Linked DNA regions of Homo sapiens: region 2 is linked to region 1. A link means that fine-mapping ties the variant in region 1 to the expression of a gene that starts in the linked region. Tissue or cell type: tibial artery. Region 1 holds a variant in brackets; the other region holds the start of a gene. All regions are shown on one strand. Distances are between the middles of the regions.

The links. PIP is the estimated chance that this variant, and not a neighbour inherited with it, causes the effect.
Region 2: NLRC3 starts here. The variant in region 1 is fine-mapped to the expression of NLRC3 in tibial artery (GTEx, PIP above 0.99). The same link has a PIP of 0.9 or more in amygdala, anterior cingulate cortex, aorta, atrial appendage, caudate and cerebellar hemisphere.

Annotation. Positions count from the first base shown.
Region 1 is chr16:3,533,585-3,544,380 of GRCh38, forward strand. CLUAP1 (clusterin associated protein 1) reads left to right here. Exons shown (of 12, transcript NM_015041.3): 12 at 2,538-5,464. The coding sequence ends at 2,687. It overlaps NLRC3 (NLR family CARD domain containing 3), which reads right to left. Exons shown (of 20, transcript NM_178844.4): 16 at 10,662-10,745; 17 at 9,841-9,924; 18 at 9,108-9,191; 19 at 8,607-8,690; 20 at 5,449-8,331. The coding sequence ends at 8,241. LOC101929732 (a long non-coding RNA gene) reads left to right here and starts at 8,325. Exons shown (of 4, transcript XR_007064953.1): 1 at 8,325-8,718; 2 at 8,804-10,796. The variant A/G (reference allele first, on the strand shown) is at 6,262.
Region 2 is chr16:3,571,369-3,581,472 of GRCh38, forward strand. It overlaps NLRC3 (NLR family CARD domain containing 3), which reads right to left and starts at 6,035. Exons shown (of 20, transcript NM_178844.4): 1 at 5,781-6,035. LOC105371060 (a long non-coding RNA gene) reads left to right here and starts at 6,135. Exons shown (of 2, transcript XR_001752061.3): 1 at 6,135-7,685; 2 at 8,019-9,853. SLX4 (SLX4 structure-specific endonuclease subunit) reads right to left here. Exons shown (of 15, transcript NM_032444.4): 15 at 9,813-10,104. LOC124903632 (a long non-coding RNA gene) reads left to right here. Exons shown (of 2, transcript XR_007064955.1): 2 at 1-870. RefSeq lists enhancers at 7,119-7,168, 7,199-7,378, 9,280-10,075 and a silencer at 7,819-7,918.

The DNA.
Region 1 (10,796 bases):
ATTCTAGGGGTCCTCAGTGAGGTCCAGTCATCAGGGCTCTGCCGCCCATTGCTCAAGCCTACGTTCTTTGTTGCGTCCCTGGCAGTGCTGCTCGGCCCACACAGCAAAGGGCGACTCAACAGAGACTGACCCCAGGCTGCCTCCATGTGCCCTGAATTTACAGGGCACAGTCTGTAGAGAAGCAGAGAGAGCAACTGGAAAATAATTTTCCTAACAAGCTCGGGTGTGGATGGTATACAGCGTCTCTCCGTCTTGCCCACCCAAGACAGAAGCAGAGGGAGTGTGGCGTGGGTGCTGGCAATGCTGAGGCAGCACCGCCTGCCTCTTCTCCAGGGTTTGCCTTCTCTCTCCTCAGAGCGAATGCATTAGTCGCAGCTGAGCTTTATGCCTGGTGGTCACTTGTTTATTTCAAGGAGGCTGTGTCCATGCCGCCCTCCAGGCACAGGGTTCCATGCTTTACGTGTTCAGGCATCCAACACGTGTCTGTTGAGTGCCTGCCACATGCCAGTGCTGTCGTGGATTATGGGGAACGCAGCAGGGGCAGAGGCAAGCCCCTGCTTCATGGCTCACACCCCAGCAATAATGATGGATTGTCGGATCAGGGCTCATGGTGTTAACAGGAGGAATAACAGCTTCAGGGGACAGGGAGTGACAGGGAACAAGGAGGGGGTGGCGTCTTCTGCGAGGTCAGTGAAGGCCCCTGACGTGGTGGTGTTTGAGCAGGGCCTGAGTGGAGGGAGCGAGCGCATGGGTTGGCGGCACCTGGGCATGTGGAATGCACTCCTCGCATCGAGGAGCAGAGGCAGCTGGTGTGATTGTGGGTGAGTGCGAGAGGCAGCAGGGGCCATGCAGAGCTTTGCAGGGTGAGATGAAGACTCTGTTTTCTCTGAGTGTGAGGGGAAGGCCCTGAAGAATCATGAGCCCAGAAGGGTCAAGAGCTGATGATCCCTGTTTGAGAGAAGCCAGTTAGGAGGCGCCTGCACCCGTGGAGGTCAGAGGTGACGGTGCTTGGCCGAAGGTGTGGCAGCAGAGGTGTTGAGAAATGGTCAGGTCCTGGGTCTCTCTAAGAACCATCAGGTTTTGTGAATTGATTGGACATAGGCTGTTAGAGAAAGAGAAAAATGAGGGTGCCTGGGCTTGGTCTAATCAGCAGAAAGCAGAGTTTCATTTTCTGAGATGGGGCCGACTTGACAAAGGGGCTTGGAAGGCAGATCGAAAGTTTGATTTTGGACATTCTGAATGTGACAGCCACATGCTAGGGTTGAGTAGCCAGGTGGAATTTAAGTCTGGAGTTCAAGGGCCACGTCTGGGCTAGAGATTGAATTTTGGGAGCCACCCTTATTTGGTTGGTATCTAAGCCACAAGGATAGATGTGACTGCCTAGGGAGAGCAAGTAGAATGAGAAGAGAGGCGACCCAAGGTCCTGAGCTGCATCTGCCCTGCAGAGGTCCGGGAGGAAGGGGCAGGCAGAGGAGGCTGAGGGGCGTCAGCAGTGAGGAAGGGGGACCTGGACTAGAGAAGGGGCCCTGGGGGATGGAGAAGATGGGTTTTAAGGATGAAGGGGTGATTCCACAGCTCAAGCAGGATGAGGCCTGAGAATCGATCCCAGTCCGTTGAATGTTTCCTTCTTGACAGGAGCAGTGCTGGGGTCAGTAGGTGAGAGCCCGGGGGAACTGAAGCAGTCGTGAGGGGCACAGGTGTGGACAGTGAGTTCAACGACTCGCTCAGGAGCTTTGTGTGAGGGGAGAGAGACAGGGCAGAGCAGCTGGAGAGGAAGGTGGGATTACCTTTGGGGTTTTTTTTCAAGAAGGAAATTACAGCATGAGTGTGCACCGACAGGAATGATCTAGATAGAACGACCAGCCATCCTGGTTTACATGGGACGCAGGAACTGCCGTTTTAAAGCTGGGCTGAGTTGGTCACCCTGGAGCCCTGGATCCGATGAGGAGAGAGAGGGTGTGTCTTTCACTTTGCTCCCTTTTTTTCTTTTTTTTCTTTTTTTTTTGAGATGGAGTCTTGCTTTGGAGTGCAGTGGTGCAATCTCGGCTCACTGCACCTCTGCCTCCCAGGTTCAAGCGATTCTTCTGCCTCAGTCTCCGGAGTAGCTGGGATTCACTTTGCTCCTTATACCAATGTCTATGTTGCTTTCCATCCACAATCTACAAAAAGCCAAAACAGGCCTCCCTTCCCTCTCTCCAAGCCCCTGTCCTTCTTGCCATCTGTAGGGGGAGTCTCTAGGTCCAGTGGCCCTCAGCGCAGATGCAGAGTGCTTCTTAGACGCTGCGGGAAAGCCAGCCCCTGCAGCACCACACCCAGATGCACCTGCAGTTTGGAGGATTCTGGTTGGATGATAAATTCCAGCTGGCAGTACATAGCCTCAGTCCCATCTGTATGCCCTCCCACAGCCTGCTTGCCACTCTGCCAGCCTCTTCCTTCACACAGGGATGCTGCTATAGAAAGGGAGGCAGAGAGTCTTAGGACAAGATGTCAGGAATGAGGCAGGATCCCCCGTTGCATCTGCCATTTTTTTCCTATAGGAGGACTCGGAGGAGAGTGAAATTGACATGGAAGATGATGATGACGAGGATGACGATTTGGAAGACGAGAGCATTTCTCTCTCACCAACCAAGCCCAATCGAAGGGTCCGGAAATCTGAACCCCTGGATGAGAGTGACAATGACTTCTGACCCTTTTGCCAAGGGACCCTGGCAGATTAAAACCCTCAGACTTGTAGGTAAATGGGAACTTAGAAGGTTAGGAAGGTAACCCCTGTTTTGTTTACTAAGCTGGCTGGACTCATGATCACTGAAGCAATACTTATTTCTGCTTTAGCCTCCTATGTTTGCATTCCATGAAGCTTAAATAAGAATTGAAGCAAATCCCTAAGATTTATTTTTTTCCACCTTATTTATCTTCTAAAACTTGAGGAATGCATGTGTTCTTAGTGATTCACATCCACGGGACAAAAACTCAAGAAGAAATAAGAGCTGACGCCACACAAGTCTTGGCTGCTTTTGTTACTATACATTTTCTCTGAGACTCCAGCAGAGTTGGGGCTGGAACTTGGCACTGGGGACTCATGTTTGGAATCGTAGGGGAACATCTGGCTGTTAATCACTTGCACAGTTGAGAACATTTCCTATACATCGGCTTTTAATTCTAGCTCTTATTTCATTTTGTAATCTTATTTTCTTTCGTCTGCATGTTCACAATACCAAGCATTAAATGTATTTTAATAACTAAACTTTTCTGAAAGAAGGTTAGCTAAAGTTAAATGAAAACTTGGTTTCTTTGAAAATCAGGCAATAGAGACAGGCTCCAGATGAGGAATCCTCCATTTTCTGTCCGAAGCTGACATTCCTCTGGCAGTCCAGTTCACCTTGGATTACAGCCACCTTCATGTTTCCACGGTTGGTACTAAATCTGGAAACTCTGGTGACCTGGGCTGCCCTCTCAGAAACTCCAGACTCCCATGGCAATGACAGCCGGGACACTTTTCTTCCCTCCAGCCAGGGTTTCTCTAAAGGAGCTTTGTTTTGTCTAAAGTGTGGCAAGACATAGTGCACAACACAGGGACAAAGGCAGGTTTCCTGCAGCTCGCTACCTAAGTGTTTCTGTAGGGGAAGGAGCCAATTAAGAAAAAGTGTTGGTACAGATTCATGTTTCTGATTTAAAAAAACAACAACACAGGATTGAATTAAGTAGAGTAATAGCACTAGAAGAATTTTTCTGTTGTGAAATTAGAAGTGGAGTTGGTTTTTTTCTTTTTTCTTCTTCTTTTTTTTTAATATGAAAAGTACTTAGCTGGGAGTGGTGGCAAGCGCCCTTGGGTCCAGCTACTCAGGAGGCCAAGGTGGGAGGATCACTTGAGCCCAGGAGTTTTAGACTAGCCTGGACAACTAAGTGAGACTCCATCTCTACAAAAAATTAAAAAATTAGCCAGGTGTGGAGGGGCATGCCTGTGGTCTCAGCTATTCAGGAGGCTGAGGCAGGAGAATCACTTGAGACCAGGAAGTTGAGGCTGCAATGAGCCGTGATCATGCCACTGCACTCCAGCCTGGGTGACAGAGTGAGACCCTGTCTTTAAAAAAAAGAAAAAGAAAAGCACGCTGCTTGTAAAAAGCGTACAGTAGGTCAGGCGTGGTGGCTCATGCCTGTAATCCTAGCACTTTGAGAGGCTGAGGTGGGTAGATCACCTGAGGTCAGGGGTTTGAGACCAGCCTGGCCAACATGGCGAAACCCCACCTCTACTAAAAATACAAAAATTAGCCGGGCGTGGTAGCGCATGCCTGTAACCCCAGCTACTGGGGAGGCTGAGGCAGGAGAATCGCTTGAACCTAGGAGGCGGAGGTTGCAGTGAGCCGAGATGGCGCCACTGCACTCCAGCCTGGGCAGCAGAGTGAGACTCCATCTCAAAAAAAAAAAAAAAAAAAAAAGCATACAGTAAATAAAAAAGCACAAAACAGTTTTCACTTATTTTACAATTAAAAAGTCAGAAGACTTCTGAAGTTACTTATCTTTTAATACATGTATTTAACACCATACTTCATATTATTAAATAGGTTTTACTTAAAAATATAATTATTGTATTTGTACCTGTCAGATATAAATACTTATTCAGGAGTTCACAGGTACGAAAAGATACACATAAATTTTAGGAACTTTTGAGTTATTTCTGTCATTTTTGCTTTTTTCTCTTTCTTTTCCTAAATTTTATGTATAAGATTACCCCTAAAAAAAAAAAAACAGCCAGTATTCAGTGAATTCACCAGTAATTTGAAATGCACCATATTGTAAATGATCCACTGACAGGGAAGCCAGCGTGTTGGAGCCATGCCAGCCACCTCAGACACCGTGGCTCTAAGATGCGGAAGAGTCACTGCATCTTCTTGAATGTTACAGATTTGGTTTGCCTGAATGTGACTTGACTTCTGTTTTGAAAAAACATACGAATAGAGTTCTATTTTCCTTATGTGATGCTTTCTTCTAACACACTTTAACACAGAAGCCTAACCTAGCTACAAAGAGCCTATCCACAGACATAGGCAACAGCTCCAAAGGGTATTTCATTGTGTCACCTGCTTCTAGATCATCTGTTAGTTAACTGACTTTGTGCAAGGTCTCACCATGTATAGCACTGCCTTGCTTGAGCACGGAAGTTTCTGTCAACAGCAAGCTTTATGTGCTCTATCATTTTTATTAAAGTATTTCAGTCAATAGTGACCCATTGTAGAATGGATGCAGGATTCACATGTGCAAGTGCTTTGTGACCTGGCACCATTTGGTTTTGGCCAAGCAGCAGAGCAGACCTCAGGACCTAACGAGGATGGTTGTGATTAGGTCAAATAGAAAACTAGCAGGCCATTGCTGACAATTTTTACTATATAATTAGAGGACTTCCTAAAATGCTTTAAAAAAAAATGTGTATGGATGGAAAATACAAAGGAATTTTTCAAATACTCAATTTTTATTGGTAGTAGTTATCAAGAACAAAGTCCTCGGACTTCTGATGGGAAATCTGAACTGCTGTTTCTCTTTTAGCGTACAAGAAGAAATAGATCCCTCTCATTAGCACTTTAATATCAGTGTCACGTGTCTGGAAGGAAATTGTATTCATTTAGGTAAGCAACACACTACATAAATATCATAGCTGTTAGACCCAGGGGACTCTCAGGTGCCAGAATTGGGGACTCCTTTAATTGGAAGGGAGCTAAAGGGTCTACCTCCTACCTAGAAGTCCTTTCTATGTGGATATGAATTAAATTCTCTTGTCTGTTTTGCTCTGATGGGGTCTGTGTGGGCTAGCTGGCTCTGGTGTGTGCCTGACGACAGACTGAACTCCTTAACCATTTCAGACAGCTTGAAGATGTATGATCATTATTTGAAAAGGGAGAGAGGGAGGACTCTTTGTTTTCTCCACCAGTTTGGCTCCTGAGGTTTCTTCAGCGTTAGGTTTCTGTAGGGCCCAGCTTTCTCCAGTGTTTGGCTACTGCAACTCTGTGTTCTGCCAGTCTCTTAACTCAGACAGAAACAATGCAAACCAGCAGACAGAGCATCACCTTGAAAGTACTAAAACAGCTGTCAATCTAGAAATCTCTGCCCCGCAAAAACTGTCATAAATACTGCAAGACCCATGTTCAGATTTCCCCCCTTTTACAAATAATGTTTTGTTTTATTTCCCAGCTACTACAAGTGATCCAAATGTTCTTTATAGCAGACTTTTTCCTGCAGTCTAGGATCCAGTCAGAGATCTTGCATTAA[A/G]TTATATCTCTGTAATCTTTAATTTCACGCTATCTGCAATGTTTTGTGTTTTTCATGACATTGATGTTTTTGATGAGGTCAGGCCATTTATTCTGCAGAATATCTGTCAATTTGGATTTTTTCTAATTGTTCTTTCATGATTAGAATCAGGCAAACATTTTTTGACAAGAATACATCAGAGACGACTCCGTGGTGCATCAGACTGGGGGCATGTGATGTCTGTGTGTCCCATTATTGGCGATGTTCAATTCTGTCACTTCTGTTGAGGCTGCATTTGCCAGATTTCAGATTAAGGTACCTTTTTCCCTTTGTAAATTAGGATATCACCTTTGTGGGGTGCCGTTTTGAGACTGCAAGGATATCATCTTCCCGAGTAGGCCTTCATCCATGGCCTCAGCATCCATGATGGTTCCTGTCCGGATGCTCACTTTTGAAGAAACATTTCAAATAATAGTGATTCCTTTCCAATTCAAAAGTAATCATTGCTTTATAGTCTTCATAAATATTTTCTGTGGTTATTTAGTTGATGAAAGCTGTTGATGTCCATTTGGATTTTTTTCCCTCCAACACAAACAGCTGCAGGAATTGGTGCCACATAGAGGCTCAGCTTGCCTGTCTCCATGGAAGCTGTGGCCACAGCAGTGGCTTTGGAAGCCTAGTAAGGAATGACATCACTGCCAGGTGCAGTGGCTCACACCTGTAATCCCAGCACTTTGGGAGGCTGAGGTGGGTGGATCACTTGAGGTCAGGAGTTAAAGACCAGCCTGATCAACATGGTGAAACCCCATCTCTACTAAAAATACAAAAATTAGCTGGGTGTGGTGGTGCGTGCCTGTAGACCCAACTACTTGGGAGGCCGAGGCAGGAGAATCACTGGAACCCATGAGGTAGAGCCTACAGTGAGCTGAGATCATGCCACTGCACTCCAGCCTGGGTGACAGATTCTGTCTCAAAAATAAATAAAGAATGACATCACTGAATACACTGAATGTGCTATTGATAACCAGTGTGCCAGACTCCAGACAACATGTGCCAGGCATCACCCATGTCTTTGATTTTGTAATAAATAAAAAATGGGGCCAGGTGTGGTGGCTCATGCCTGTAATCCCAGTACTTTGGGAGGCCCAGGCTGATGGATCACCTGAGGTCAGGAGTTCGAGACCAGCCTGGCCAACATGATGAAACCCCGTCTCTACTAAAACTACAAAAATTAGCCGGGCATGGTGGCGGGTGCCTGTATTCCCAGCTACTGGGGAGGCTGAGGCAGGAGAATCACATGAACCCGGGAGGCGGAGGTTGCAGGGAGCTGAGATCGTGCCACTGCACTCCAGCCTGGGCGACAAGAGCGAGACTCCATCTCAAAAACAAACAAAAAAGGCAAAATCCTTGGAGAACTCTTACTGTCTCTGTTTCCAGAATCCTAGAATTAAAACTTTCATTTATCTTCACAATTTTCCCATAGCTTTTTCATGTCTGTAAGGATGATACCCTGAAATCTTCTTCTTGAGAAGATAAAGAAGGGTCCCCTCTGTTACCCCTACCAAACGGATGCTCCTCACGGGCTTGAGGTGGCAGCTCATCTCAGAGCATGGGATGATTTTTAACCAGGTGAGTGGAAAGGGGCAGTAATAAACATTTTTAAAGGTTGGGGACACATGAAGTCCTCAGGGTGTAAAGCTGGAACCAGCCTCCTGTACTGCTCAGCTTTCAGGCCTTTGGCCCCTAGTCCCTTGGGGGTGGCCCCTCCCTTCTCTGTGCCATAACAGAGTACCCGTCACCCCCTGCCTGGACCACTCCTGCAGCAGAAGAGGAGCTCACGACCTCCTCCGGCAGCACCTCTCCTTCCTCCCTGCAGAGCCCGGCTCTCGTGCTGAGCAAGCAGCGTTCCCAGCTCCCAGACAGGCCCCCCAGAAGTCGGCCTTTCTGTTCAAAAGCTTCCAGCTGAGCATCTGCCCATTCTCCTGATCCGTCCACCAGGATCACATTTCAACAGTGCACGTGGGAGCATTTGTCTTGATGGCCTCTGAGATCATCCTGGCCCCGGAGTCCCCAATGTGGTTTCCCTGGAGACTAGAAGAGTAGGGTTAAGGCAGGGCTCAAAGCCTGCAGGTTCTCTTTAGTAGAGCAGGCCATACAATAGAAAATGCAGGACCCCATGCAAAGCCTTTGTGCTTCTAGGATCCCCTCGCTACATGGACAAGGCTCAGGGTACCTCCCCTTAGACCAGGTTTCCCTATAGGCCTGCTGAAGCGTCTGGGGGTCAGCTGGCTCTCAGAACTGGGCAAAAGGCAGTGCGCCACCTGGAAGCAGTTCTAAGGGTGAGCAGGAAGGGCAGGTGCACTCACTTGATATGCTGGAGCCTGTGGTTTCCAGACAGTGCTGTGGCAATGCATATCGCCCCGTCCATCCCCAGAGAATTCTCTTGAAGACTAAGTGGAAAAGAGATGGAGACACACGGTGAGCCATCAGGGCAGAAGGAAAACACCCGGGGAAGCAACAGTGCATTGTCTGGGGGCAGTAACCCAGGCAGATGTGTCCACAGGTGCCATGGCAACTCCAGGTGGGAGTTGACCCTGGAGACAGGTGTCTACGAGTGGCCAGATTGTCCCACGCAAGTGCGCTGGAGGATGTAAGGCCATAAATGCAAGATGTGAGTGACTTCTGACTGAAGCTAAGCACACTCAACAAACCCAGCTGCAGTGGAATGTGGACTATAATAAGTCTGATTGTTTATATTCAGAAGGAAATAGCTACAGAAGAAATCAGGAGCATTTTATTCCATCAGGGAGGACCCAGCAGAGAACTCTGCTGCTCCAGGATGCAGGTAGGTCCCTCCAGCCACTTACTTGAGTCTCCGGAGACTTGAGTTTACCTTCAGAGCATTTGCCAGGGCTTTGGCTCCAGCCACCCCAATGGCATTTCCTCTTAAGCTGTTGGGAAAGACAGGAAGCCTAAGGCATGGGTACAGGCTGAGAGGTGATACTGACCCCTCTGCGGGTGGGCTTGGGGCTGCTTGGTAGAGGAAACAAGGACTTCAGCAGTCACAGGAGGCCAGGGCTGTGCCTTCCTCACTCCAGGGCAACAGGGCAGAGCTGGCTCTGGGAAGCAGGGCACACAGGGGCATGGCTGGCCTAGCCAGGAGGGTTGTTGGAGCCTTCCTCCTCTTCCATTTCAAACAGAAAAGCGGGGCTGAGACAGGAGAGGCAGCCCTCCATCTGGGCAGGTCCCCAGTGCTCCCAGCAAGGGCAGGAATTCTGAGGACATGCCTGAGCCTCAGAGCTGTAACCTCACCCCAGGACTTTGGATCTGCCCAGAGAACAAGATCAGCCCCCCTGGGACCCATAAACCAGGCCTCTAGACGTGTTCAGCCTGGCAAGGCCAACCCGGAGAGGAGGGCAAATGATAGCGACTCCCAGGGAAAGGCATGAAGTGGGGCTGGGAAACTGGTATACTTGCACTGAAATGAAGATCACCAGGATGATTTGTGAGTTGTCTGTAAACTTTGTCCCCATATCTATTCATTGAGAATTCATTGATTTCTTTGGGCTAAAGACCATAGATGGAGACTGGAATACTTACTCGAGAATCTCCAAGGTTCTGTTCACAGCCAAGGCTTCCCCTAGCACCTGGGCGCCTGAAGCACCAATTGAGGCCACCTGGAGACTGGGGCGGAGAGGGTGCCGTCAGTGTGAGCCGGCTGGGCCCACCTCCCTCCGCATACTCCGTTCCCTTTCACCACCCCTTGACTCAGGATGGAAAGTGGAGAAACAGCACTGAGAATGGTTGGCCAGCGCTGTGTCTAGGCACTCCATCTCCTACCTACACTGTCTGTTGCCTAAGACAGAGATCTGGATGCTAAGGAGATGAGAAATAGAGGCTGTCCCTGGAAGGGCTCGGGGAGAATGCTCCCTGTACCTCCTCATTACTACTCTCTAGGTGTTTGAGCCCCCAACTGCTAATATCATATTTCCTATATTAGGAAAATCAAACACACCTTCCTTGACTTGTAAACAAAAATAACGTCCAGGCCAGGTGTGGTGGCTCACACCTGTAATCCCAGCACTTTGGGAGGCTGAGGTGGGCAGATCACCTGAAGTCAGGAGTTTGAGACCAGCCTGGCCAATATGGTGAAACCCCGTCTCTACTAAAAATACAAAAATTAGGCTGGGTGTGGTGGTGCACGCCTGTTATCCCAACTACTGTATGGGAGGCTGAGGCTTGAGAATCACTTGAACCCAGGAGGTGGAGGTTACAGTTAGCTGAGATTATGTCACTGCACTCCAGCCTGGGTGGCAGAGCAAGACTCTTGTCTCGAGGAAAAAAAAAAAAAAAAAGACCTCTAACGTGAAAGGATGGCGAAGGGACCGGTTTCCTGACTGCTGCGCACATCTAGGACTTACTAGAGAGCAGTGAGGGCTGTGTTGACCTTCAGTGCACGGGCCACCGCACACGCTCCGTCATCCCCGATGGCGTTCTCCTGTAAACTAGACACAGAGTATGACCCCTTTGGGTGCACGGGGCACAGGGAGCATTCT
Region 2 (10,104 bases), 37 kb after region 1:
ACACACCATCTCTACAAAAAAAAAAAAATAGATGGGGCTGGTGGTGGGCACCTGTGGAACTAGCTATGGGGAGGCTGAGGTAGGAGGACCCCTTGAGCTCAGGAGGCTGAGGCTGCAGTGAGCTATGATTGTGCCACTGCAATCCAGCTTGGGTGACAGAGCAAGACCCTGGCTTTAAAAAAAAAAAAAAAAAGCAGAATTCATGAAGAGGGAGACTAGTAAATTTGTCTTAATTGAATTAAAATATTAAATAATTAAATATTTAGTTTGATATTAAATAATTAAAATATTTGCCAGGCGTGGTGGCTCACGCCTGTAATCCCAGCACTTTGGGAGGCTGAGGCGGGTGGATCACAAGGTCAAGAGATCAAGACCAGCCTGGCCAACATGGTGAAACCCCATCTCTACTAAAAATACAAAAATTAGCTGGGCGTGGTGGCACGTGCCTGTAGTCCCGGCTACTCGGGAGGCTGAGGCAGGAGAATCGCTTGAACCCGGGAGGCAGAGGTTGCAGTGAGCCAAGATGGCGCCACTGCACTCCAGCCTGGGTGACAGAGCGAGACTCCATCTCAAAAAATAATAATAATAATTAAAATATTTATAAGTAATAATAGATGCCATAAAGTTGAAAGAAAAACTATAAGCCAGGAGTCAACATTTGCAACATACATGGAAAAATATGAATATCCTTAATATATAAAGAACTTATAAATCAATAATAAGTAACCAAACAGAATTATGAACCCCAAATGAAATAGAAAAAAGGACACAGATAATTCATAGAAGTATAAATGACCAAGATATTGAAAAGATGCTCAGTGTCACTAAGGATCAAGAAAAAAGCAAAAGAATAAACTATCATTTTTCATACGTCTCATTGGTGAATATTATAACATAACAGACTGCATTGGTGAGAACATGGAGGTAGTGGGAAATTTTTTTTTTTTTTGAGACAGGATCTCACTGTGTCACCCAGGCTGGAGTGCAGTGGCATGATCAGGGTTCACTGCAGCCTCAACTTCCCTGGGCTCAAGTGATCCTCCAAAGTAGCTGGGACTACAGGCGCATGCTACCACATCCAGCTAATTTTTGTATTTTTTGTAGAGACAGGGTCTTGCCATGTTGCCTAGGCTGGTCTCCAACTTCTGGGGTCAAGCAATCTTCCCACCTTGGCCTCCCAAAGTGCTGGAATTATTGGCATGAGCCACTGTGCCAGGCCTGTAGTGGGAATCTTAATTCATAGTGGGTGGAAGTATAAATTAGTATAACAATTCTGGATTATAATAACCATTATCTGTTGTCATTAAATATCTTTTGTCCTAGAAATTCCACTTCTGGGAATTTATCCTAAAGAAATATGTGGGCCAGGCGCGGTGACTCACACCTGTAATCCTAGCACTTTGGGAGGCCAAGGCAGGCAGATCATCTGAGGTCAGGGGTTCGAGACCAGTCTGGCCAACATGGTGAAACCCCGTCTCTACTAAAAATACAAAAATTAGCTGGGCATGGTGGTGGGTGACCGTAATCCCAGCTACTCAGGAGGCTGAGGCAGGGAATTGCTTGAACCCAGGAGGTGGAGGTTGCAGTGAGCCGAGATGGTGCCACTGCACTCTAGCCTGGGCGATAGAGCAAGACTCTATCTCAAAAAAAAAAAAAAAAAAAAATCAAATATCTAGGAATAAATCTAGCAAAATTTGCAAGACCTCTATACTGAAAACTATAAAACATTACTGAGAGAAATTAAAAAACATCAAAAGGAGGGATGGAGGCTGGGCACCATGGCTCACCCCTGTAATCCCAGCACTTTAGGAGGCCAAGGTGGGTGGATTGCTTGAGCCCGGGAGTTTGAGACCAGCCTGAGCAACATGGGCAAAACCCTGTCTCTATAAAAAGTACAAAAAAAAAAAAATTAGCTGAGCACGGTGGCGCATGCCTGTAATCCCAGCTACTCAAGGAAGCTGAGGTGGGAGGATCGCTTAACTCCCGCCGTCAAGGCTGCAGTTAGCTGAGATCTCACTACTCCACTCCAGCCTGAGTGATAGAGCAAGACCCTGTCTCACACACACACACAAAAGCTAGCAATTATCTAAACATTCAAAGGTATGTCAGCCCAAATGAAGCAGTGCTACTGTCTGCCTGATATGCCAGAGGCCAGGATACGGGGTCCTCTGTCCTTCACTGTGTGACATTAGGGTGTGGCCCAGGTGGACACAGCCTCCTGTTGTTGGATGTCCATGTGCACCCACCAGGTGACCAGCCCTGCTGCTGGGGGCGGGAGTGGCCAGGAGGATGAGAGGACTGCGTGGAAGAAGTCTCAGCTCTGGTAGGGCATCATTTGGGGTCTTATTGATTGATTGATTTAAAATTTTGGTAAAATACACATAACACAAAATTTACCATTTTAACCATTTTAAAAATAATTTTCCTTAAAAAATAGAGGCAGGGTCTTGCTTTGTCGCTAAAAAATAAAGACAGGGTCCTGCTTTGTTGCCCAGGCTGGAGTGCAGTGGTACGATCTTGGCTCACTGCAGCCTCGACCTCCTGGGCTCAAGTGATTCTCCCACCTCAGCCTCCCAAGTAGCTGGGATTACAGGTACAGGTGAGGACCACCATGCTTGGCCCATTGTAACCATTTTATCTTTTTTTTTTTTTTTTTTTTTTTTTTTTTTTTTGAGATAGAGTCTCACTCTGTTGCCTAGGCTGGAGTGTCGTGGCACTATCTCGTCTCACTGCAACCTCTGCCTCCTGGGTTCAAGTGATTCTCCCGCCTCAGGGTCCTCAGTAACTGGGATTATAGGCACCCACCATCAATACCATTTGTATTTTTGTAGAGACAGGGTTTCACCATGTTGGCCAGGCTGGTCTTGAACTCCTGACCTCCAAAAGTGCTGGGATTACAGGTGTGAACCACTGCGCCCGGCCTTGTGGAGCACGGCTTTTAAATAACCAACGCTCGGCCTGACCACCCAGAGATTTGATTGGTCTGGCAAGGGCCCCCACGTGGATCTAGTTTAAGCTCCTCCGGTGGTTCTAACCAGAGTTGAGAACCACGGGACCCGAGCGGGGCTGGGAGAGGAATGAGGGAGGGACAGTGCTGGCAGGAGTGAGGGGTTGGGGCGAGGCAGGACTCACAAGCGCCTGGGAAGGCGGGGACGGGGTGTAGGGGGCTGGCAAGCACCCCTGCCTCTGTGGCCTCATTAGTCTCTCAGTATTGGGAGTCAGCACTCCCTCCTGATCAGACACCCATCTTTGTGGCCCCATGACCTTGGGTCCAGGGTTGCCAGATTCAGCAAATTAAAATACAAGACAAACCTGGGCACAGTGGCTCATGCCTGTAATCCTAGCACTTTGGGAGGCTGAGGTGGGCAGATCACCTTGAGGTCAGGAGTTCAAGACCAGCCTGACCAACATGGCGAAACCCCATCTCTACGAAAAATACAAACATTAGCTGGGCGTGGTGGTGGATGTCTGTAGTCCCAGCTACTCTGGAGGCTGAGGCAGGAGAATCGCCTGAACTCAGGAGGTGGAGGCTGCAGTGAGCCAAGATCACGCCACTGCACTCCAGCCTGGGTGACAGAGCGAGACTGTCTCAAAAAATAATGATAAAATATGAGATATCCACAGATAATTAAATTTCAGATAAACGACATATAATTTTTAGTATAAGCATAGCTTATGTCATACTGGAGACATACCAAAGAAATGGATTATTTGAAATTCACATTTGACCAAGTGTCCTGTATCTGATCTGGCATCCCTGCTCAGGCCCCATTCAGACGAAACGTGGCTTTCATCCTGGACACTGTCCCTAAGAAGGACAGAGGAGGGGGTGCAGGTGAACCAACCCCCCTGCCATTGCCAGCACCTCCCAGGACCAGCCCCAAAGGCTGATGGGGGCTGGTTACCTGGCTGCCACCGCTGCCAGGCCCTGCACGCAGCCCTAACATCCCCCTGGCAGGCTGGAGCCTTCCACAGACCTCTCAGCCGAGTGAGGTCGCGAGGCCGCAGACGCCACTATGGATGGTCAGGCGGCCCCTGTGAGCGCAGCTGAAAGACAGAGAGACTGAGGACAGGTGGGACTCGGGTTGCTTTGGGGGATCTGAAGGCCAGAGGTCGCTCCACAGCTGGTTTGAGCTGCTGCGAGCAGGGCGAGGCCAGAGGGACGAGTAGGTGCCACTGCTGCCTCCTCCCCGGGAGCCTCCCAGGTAGCACCAGGTTTCACCCCTAGAGCTTTGTCTGTGAGCGAAGGTGAACCTGAGGCCTTCCTGGTGTGGTGTGGGCTCAAGCCCAGTTCCTCAGGCTCAGCAAGTGGCCTGCTGCCTCATTCCTGAGAAGCCTCAGTCCCGACGGACTAGCCGCCTCTGCCCATCACCCGCCCACCTGATCTGTGCCTCAGTCCTTGCCGGGACCTGCTGGGTCCTTCCCTGCCACTTGGCGCCCGGGTGGGACTTCCCAGTGCTGGCTGCCTACCTGGGCTGCCAGTATCTCCCACCACGGCTGCTTGGATGCTCCTCTCTTCCCACATCCTGCCCCTGCCCCCTCCCAGGGCCTTGGAATTCAGGACTCGGTTCTCTCGAGGTGGCCCCAGCATCATCACTTGAGCTCAAAAGCCTTCCCGAAGGAAGAAGGAAGTGGCACCTGCACCTCAGGGCCCTACCCTGCTCACTGCATGGACCCCTGGAGTCCAAGGGGTGGAGAGGCCCAGCCCTGGGGAGCCCAGCACCCTGGGACAGAAGAAGAGGGGTGCAGCCTGCAGCCTGTGATGGCCAACAGTGAGCCCCAGGCTCAGGGTCACCTCCAGGGAGGGGTCCAGAAAAACACCAGGGCCTCTGGAGCCTGGCCATAGGGGAAGACCCTGCAGCCAACACCCAGGCTGGCCCAGGGCAGTGGCACTTCTTCCGAGAAGGCCTCTGCGGTTGCCGTCTCTCTCGACCCTTGTCTCACCCAAGGCTGTGGGCAGGAGAGGCCCTGGGGCTGCCCACTCGCCTGGGGGCGGCGCCTGCACCCTCCCTGCCCCTCATGACCTCGCCCCTCCTGTGCTGTCACCTCCATCTACAGGTGGGGTGCTGAGGCCCAGAGAAGTAGCCTCCCATGGGGGGTCCCAGTGCCAGGAAGGGTGCCCAGGTCTGCCGATTCCCCAGGCCGTGGCTCAGCATCACCACTGCCTGCCCGCAGCACCTTCAAGATGCTTCCTGCTTCTCCTGGGCCATCACTGGTACCTGGGGGAGCTGGGTTTTGTCCCTGGGACCTGTCCTGGGCCATTCTTAGTTACCTGTTTTTTCTTTTCTTTTTTGTTTTGTTTTGTTTTGTTTTGGAGACAGTCTCGCTTTGTCACCCAGGATTGAGTGCAGTGGCTCGATCTCGGCTCACTGCAACCTACGCCTCCCGGGTTCAAGCGGTTCTCCTGCCTCAGCCTCCCGACTAGCTGGGTGGGATTACAGGCGTCTGCCAACATGCCTGGCTAATTTATTTTTTATTTTTAGTAGAGATGGGGTTTCACCATGTTGGCCAGGCTAGTCTCAAAGTCCTGACCTCAAGTGATCCGCCCACCTTGGCCTCCCAAAGTGTTGGGATTACAGGCGTGAGCCACCGTGCCTGGCCACATCTCTTTTTTCTACAGCATGAGCCAGTCCTGCCCCAGGAGACAGCTTCTTGGAGTCTCGTGGAGTCTCCCCAGTCCCCCTCCCCAGAGTAGCTCAGGCCTTAAGGCCACTGTCCTTCCTGCCAGCATCCCTTCTCCCTCCCCTGCCCTGCACTGAGGTCACCTGGACCCAACTTACCTCCCGGGCCTCGATGCTGCTCCAGGGACAGCAAGACTGGGGGGCCTGGGGGCGTCCATCTCCATGCTCCTGGGCTCAGCCCTGCTCCAGCTGCGTGGTGGTAGATGCCCTGGGAATCCCTGTGCCAGCCTGAGTTCTCAGGACCAGGGATCAGGGCACTTACCACGCCAACCAACCAACCGTGTGGGGGCCGAGAGCAGTGCAGCCCCGACCTTCTGCAGCCCCACCGAGCCCACCGGCTGTCCCTGTGGCTCCGGGTCCTCACCTCTTCCTGTGCTGGGCTCCACCTCATTCTTCCTTCCTGTCTGATTTCAACAGCCAACAGCCTCGCAGACACATCGAGGAGCCGGGGCACCCTGGCTTGGTCACCGCCCCCGTGCAAGTTAAGTGCGGGGGCGATGCTGGGGGTCTTGACTCTGGGATTAAGTGTCCCTGCAGGTGGCATGCTCAGGATAAAGTGGCTGGTGCCAAGGCTGTTGACACATCACCTCCATCCCGCCACAAAGGAAGCTGCCCCGCCATCAACAAATGCTTGTTTTCAGGCGGGTGGTCAGGAAATCAAGTGAGCAGCCTGAGGTCACGCAACTAGAGGGTGACCCCAGCAGGACTGGACTGTGCCCTGCCACCTCCAGGCCACCCCTGTGGCTCTCCTTATTTATTTATTTAATTTATTTATTTGAGACAGAGTCTCGCTCTGTTGCCCAGGCTGGAGTGCAATGGCACGATCTCGGCTCACTGCAACCTCCCCCTCCCAGGTTCAAGAGATTCTCCTGCCTCAGCCTCCTGAGTAGCTGGGATTACGGGCATGCGCCACCATGCCCCGCTAATTTTTGTATTTTTAGCAGAGGAGGGGCTTTGCCATGTTGGCCAGGCTGGTCTTGAACGCCTGACCTCAGGTGATCCACCCACCTTGGCTTCCCAAAGGGGTGGGATTACAGGCGTGAGCCACTGCGCCCAGCCTATTTATTTTTTGAGACAGGATCTTGCTCTGTCACCCAGACTGGAGTGCAGTGGTGTGATCTCGGCTCACTGTAGCCTCTACCTCCTGGGGCTCAAGTGATCCTCCTGCCTTGGCCTCCCAAAACACGGAGATAACAGGTGTGAGCCACTGTGCTCCCTCTTTTAACACCTCTTGCTTTCTTTTCTCTCTGTCACCCAGTAGGCACCTCTGACTCAGCTGTGCCCCATAACATCTTCCTGTGAGCAAAGGGCTCCCCAGAGGCAGGTCACCTGTACCCTAAGAGGAAACAGCAGAATGTTGCCGTCCGCGGCAGGAGATCGCACTCGGCCCCTGGAAGTGGACCTCAGTGGGTGGCCTGCCCTGACAGGGAAGGGCGTGAGGGGGAAGGACATGGCCCAGAGCAAGCCACATGAGAAAAATTACAATAAAGTATGGGACATCCGCTGGGGACAGGGAGCAAGCAACATGGGGCCACTGAGGGAAGGAGGTGACAAGGTGGGAGCCAAGGGACAGGGGTCCTGGGGTCTGAATTTTCCTCAGCAAGCAAGTGGGAGCCAGCAATGGTTGTAGAGCAGGAGAGTAGTGGGTCTGGACTCATAGAGCAGCTTGTGGCTCAGGGGAGGTAGGAGGGTTAGCTGGTTCCCCAGAGCCTGTGTGGGTGATGGGGGGGAGGGAACTGAGGCAGCAGACCAGAAGTGCTCCTGCACATTCCCCTGCCTGCCTACCTTCTTTTGTCCCTCCTTCCTCTCCCTCCCTCCCAACAATGCTTTCTGAGCACCCAGGAACCTGCTGGGTGCTGGGAGGACACGATGGACCCTCGAGAAGGCTGCCCGAGGCTCCAGGCAGGCAGAGTGCAGACCCAGCAGCTGCAGCCTCGGCTGTGGGGAGCAACAAAGGCGCCTGAAACCAGGCCGCCCACAGGATGTTGGAAACCACAGGGCCCGGTGGGTATCCGTCACATAAAAGGGGCCAGAGGCTCACACTGCCTCCCTTTGTGGCTCAGGGGGATGGATGCGGAGCCTGAGAGGACACAGCCTCATCCACGGGATCTTGGGGAGCAGCCCAACCCAGCCCAGCCCAGCCCCGCCCCGCCCCGCCCCGCCCGTTCCTCCCCCTCGCAGGAATGTCCATCAGTCCACACAGGGCTGGTCCCATTCCCCACTCTGCCCGCTCTGCTGAGAACCAGGTGGGCCGTCCTCCTGGCTCCTGGTGGAGGTGGGGGTGCTGGGCTGGGGGCTCCCTAACTGTTCTCACTCTGGGGCTTTCTGTCCACCCAGAGCTGGGGTCAGCCAGACAGGAAGCGACCTCAGCCCTTCCTAACTCAGCAACAGCGCAAGGCCCCTGCCTGCAGGCTCTTTCTTTGTAAGTGCCCTTGCCTGGGCCCAGGCTGGGGTGTGGCTCCCCTGTGACTGCCTTGAGGGGCTGTGCCCAAGCCATGCCAGGTTGGGGCCACCAAAAGTGGGACAGGCCTGGAGGCCTGTTCATATTACAGTGAGGCATAGACAGACCCGTTTTCTGATTTAGTTGTTACCAGTGAAAGTTCTGCTGCCAGTCTTTTATTCTCCCCCTTTAGAAATGTTTTTAATATTGTTTTCAAAATAGAGACTTGGCCTTACTATGTTGCCCAGGCTGGTCTCAAACTCCTGGGCTCAAGTGATCCTCCTGCCTTGGCCTCCCAAAGCACTGGGATTACATGTGGGAGCCACCGCACCCGGCATGCCAGCTTCCTTCTCAGTCACTCCTGGAAGGTAACTCTCTCTCGCCTTGTCCATGAAGAGGCCCCATTGCCTGCCAGTCTTGCTGCAGGCGCTGTGAGAAGGCATTTTCCATCTGTCAACTGGACCTAGTTTTATGTTGCCCGGGTCAGCGTCATCCCTGTAGCAGGGGCCAGGTCTACTCCTGGATGCCACCACGCCTCTGTGGGTTCCTGCAGTGACTCCTTCAACCCTTTCCCTCTGGAGGAATCAGCTGCTTCACAGCTTGTTTCAGGACAAGGAAATGCTGCTTTGTACAGGTTCAGGGCCAGCATCCAGTCCCCTGGCTGGGTGGCAGTGCATAAACCAAGCCTCTGCCCAGCGCTGTCAGCCCAGGGAGCGTCCAGCAGCCCCAACTGAATCCAAGGTCACCACAAGGCTCGAATCCAGTCCCCAGGCCATGCCTCCCCTGGCCTTGGGCTCACACTGCACTCAAGGCTCCTAACCCAGCTTGTTAACTACTTGGAACCCCTCCCCCAACCCATCTTTACCAGCCTTGAAGTTCTGAACTTTCAAGTCATGGCACATAACACATACTTCCCCAAACCACAAACCCTGCGAGGCCGGACAGGGGCCCCGAGTCCCCCACCTGCACCACTCCCTCTCGCTTCCCTAACACCAGGGAGGGGGATCAGCCCATCAAGGAAGCAGTGCGTGATGCCTTCCGAAACAGGCCAGAGGCCAGCCTCAGATTGATCACAGCTGATCTCAGCCTCTCAAATTGTTCGCCCCGGGCACCGTAAGCTGGGAGGCCTGGGCCTCTCCGCTGGTTCACGTGCCAGGACATAGTATGTGCGCCAGAAATCACATTTCACCCCCTAAATGCTGCTGAGCCCTAAGATGCAGCTCACAAACCCCTCTTCTGGGAGGCTGTCCCTGACACGGCCCTTCAAGCCACTGGAGCCCGACTCCCCACCAGGCTGGGATAGGCCAGCGTCTGTCTCCTCCACTGGACCGGACGCAATGGTAAAGGCATGTGCTGTCTTGGTGAGTTGTGGGGTGGGGCCTGAATCTGCTTTTGTAGCAACTCCCGGCTGAGGCAGCAGCTGGGGGTGCTTGGGCCCCACTTTGAGGTGCGGGGGCTGGAGCTTGGCACCCAGCCAGGGCTCTGTTGGATACGGGTGTGTGGATTAATGGATGAACATCTGCATCTCTGGTCTGGGAACTGAAATGAGGAGACAGCAGGCCCAGGTTACTCCAAAGTAAAGGGCAGGTGCAAGGTGGGGACTTCTGCAGGCGTGGGGCACGGGCTGAGGGGCCACGGTGCCTCCAGGTCCCCCGTTTCGCTCGTGGTCTCCCTGGAGTGTGGCAGCCAGATTTTAATAAAGCCTTTTTGGTTTATTGCACATCATATAAAACTGACTGCACTGTATTTGAAACAGACGAGGACATTCACAAGGATGGAGAAACCAAGGTTTCCTTCTTTCCTGGCCCTCATCTTCCTCCACACTGCTCCTGAGGCTGGAGGCAGCTTTAACCCAAAGAATGGAATCCGCTAGTGAACATGTTTGTTTTGTGGTGGCATCAGAGTTGTTCTGGGCCCTTGTGCACTGTCCAGTTTGGAGACTGCTGGTAACAATGACAAGTGTCCGGGTAGCACGGCTGGGTC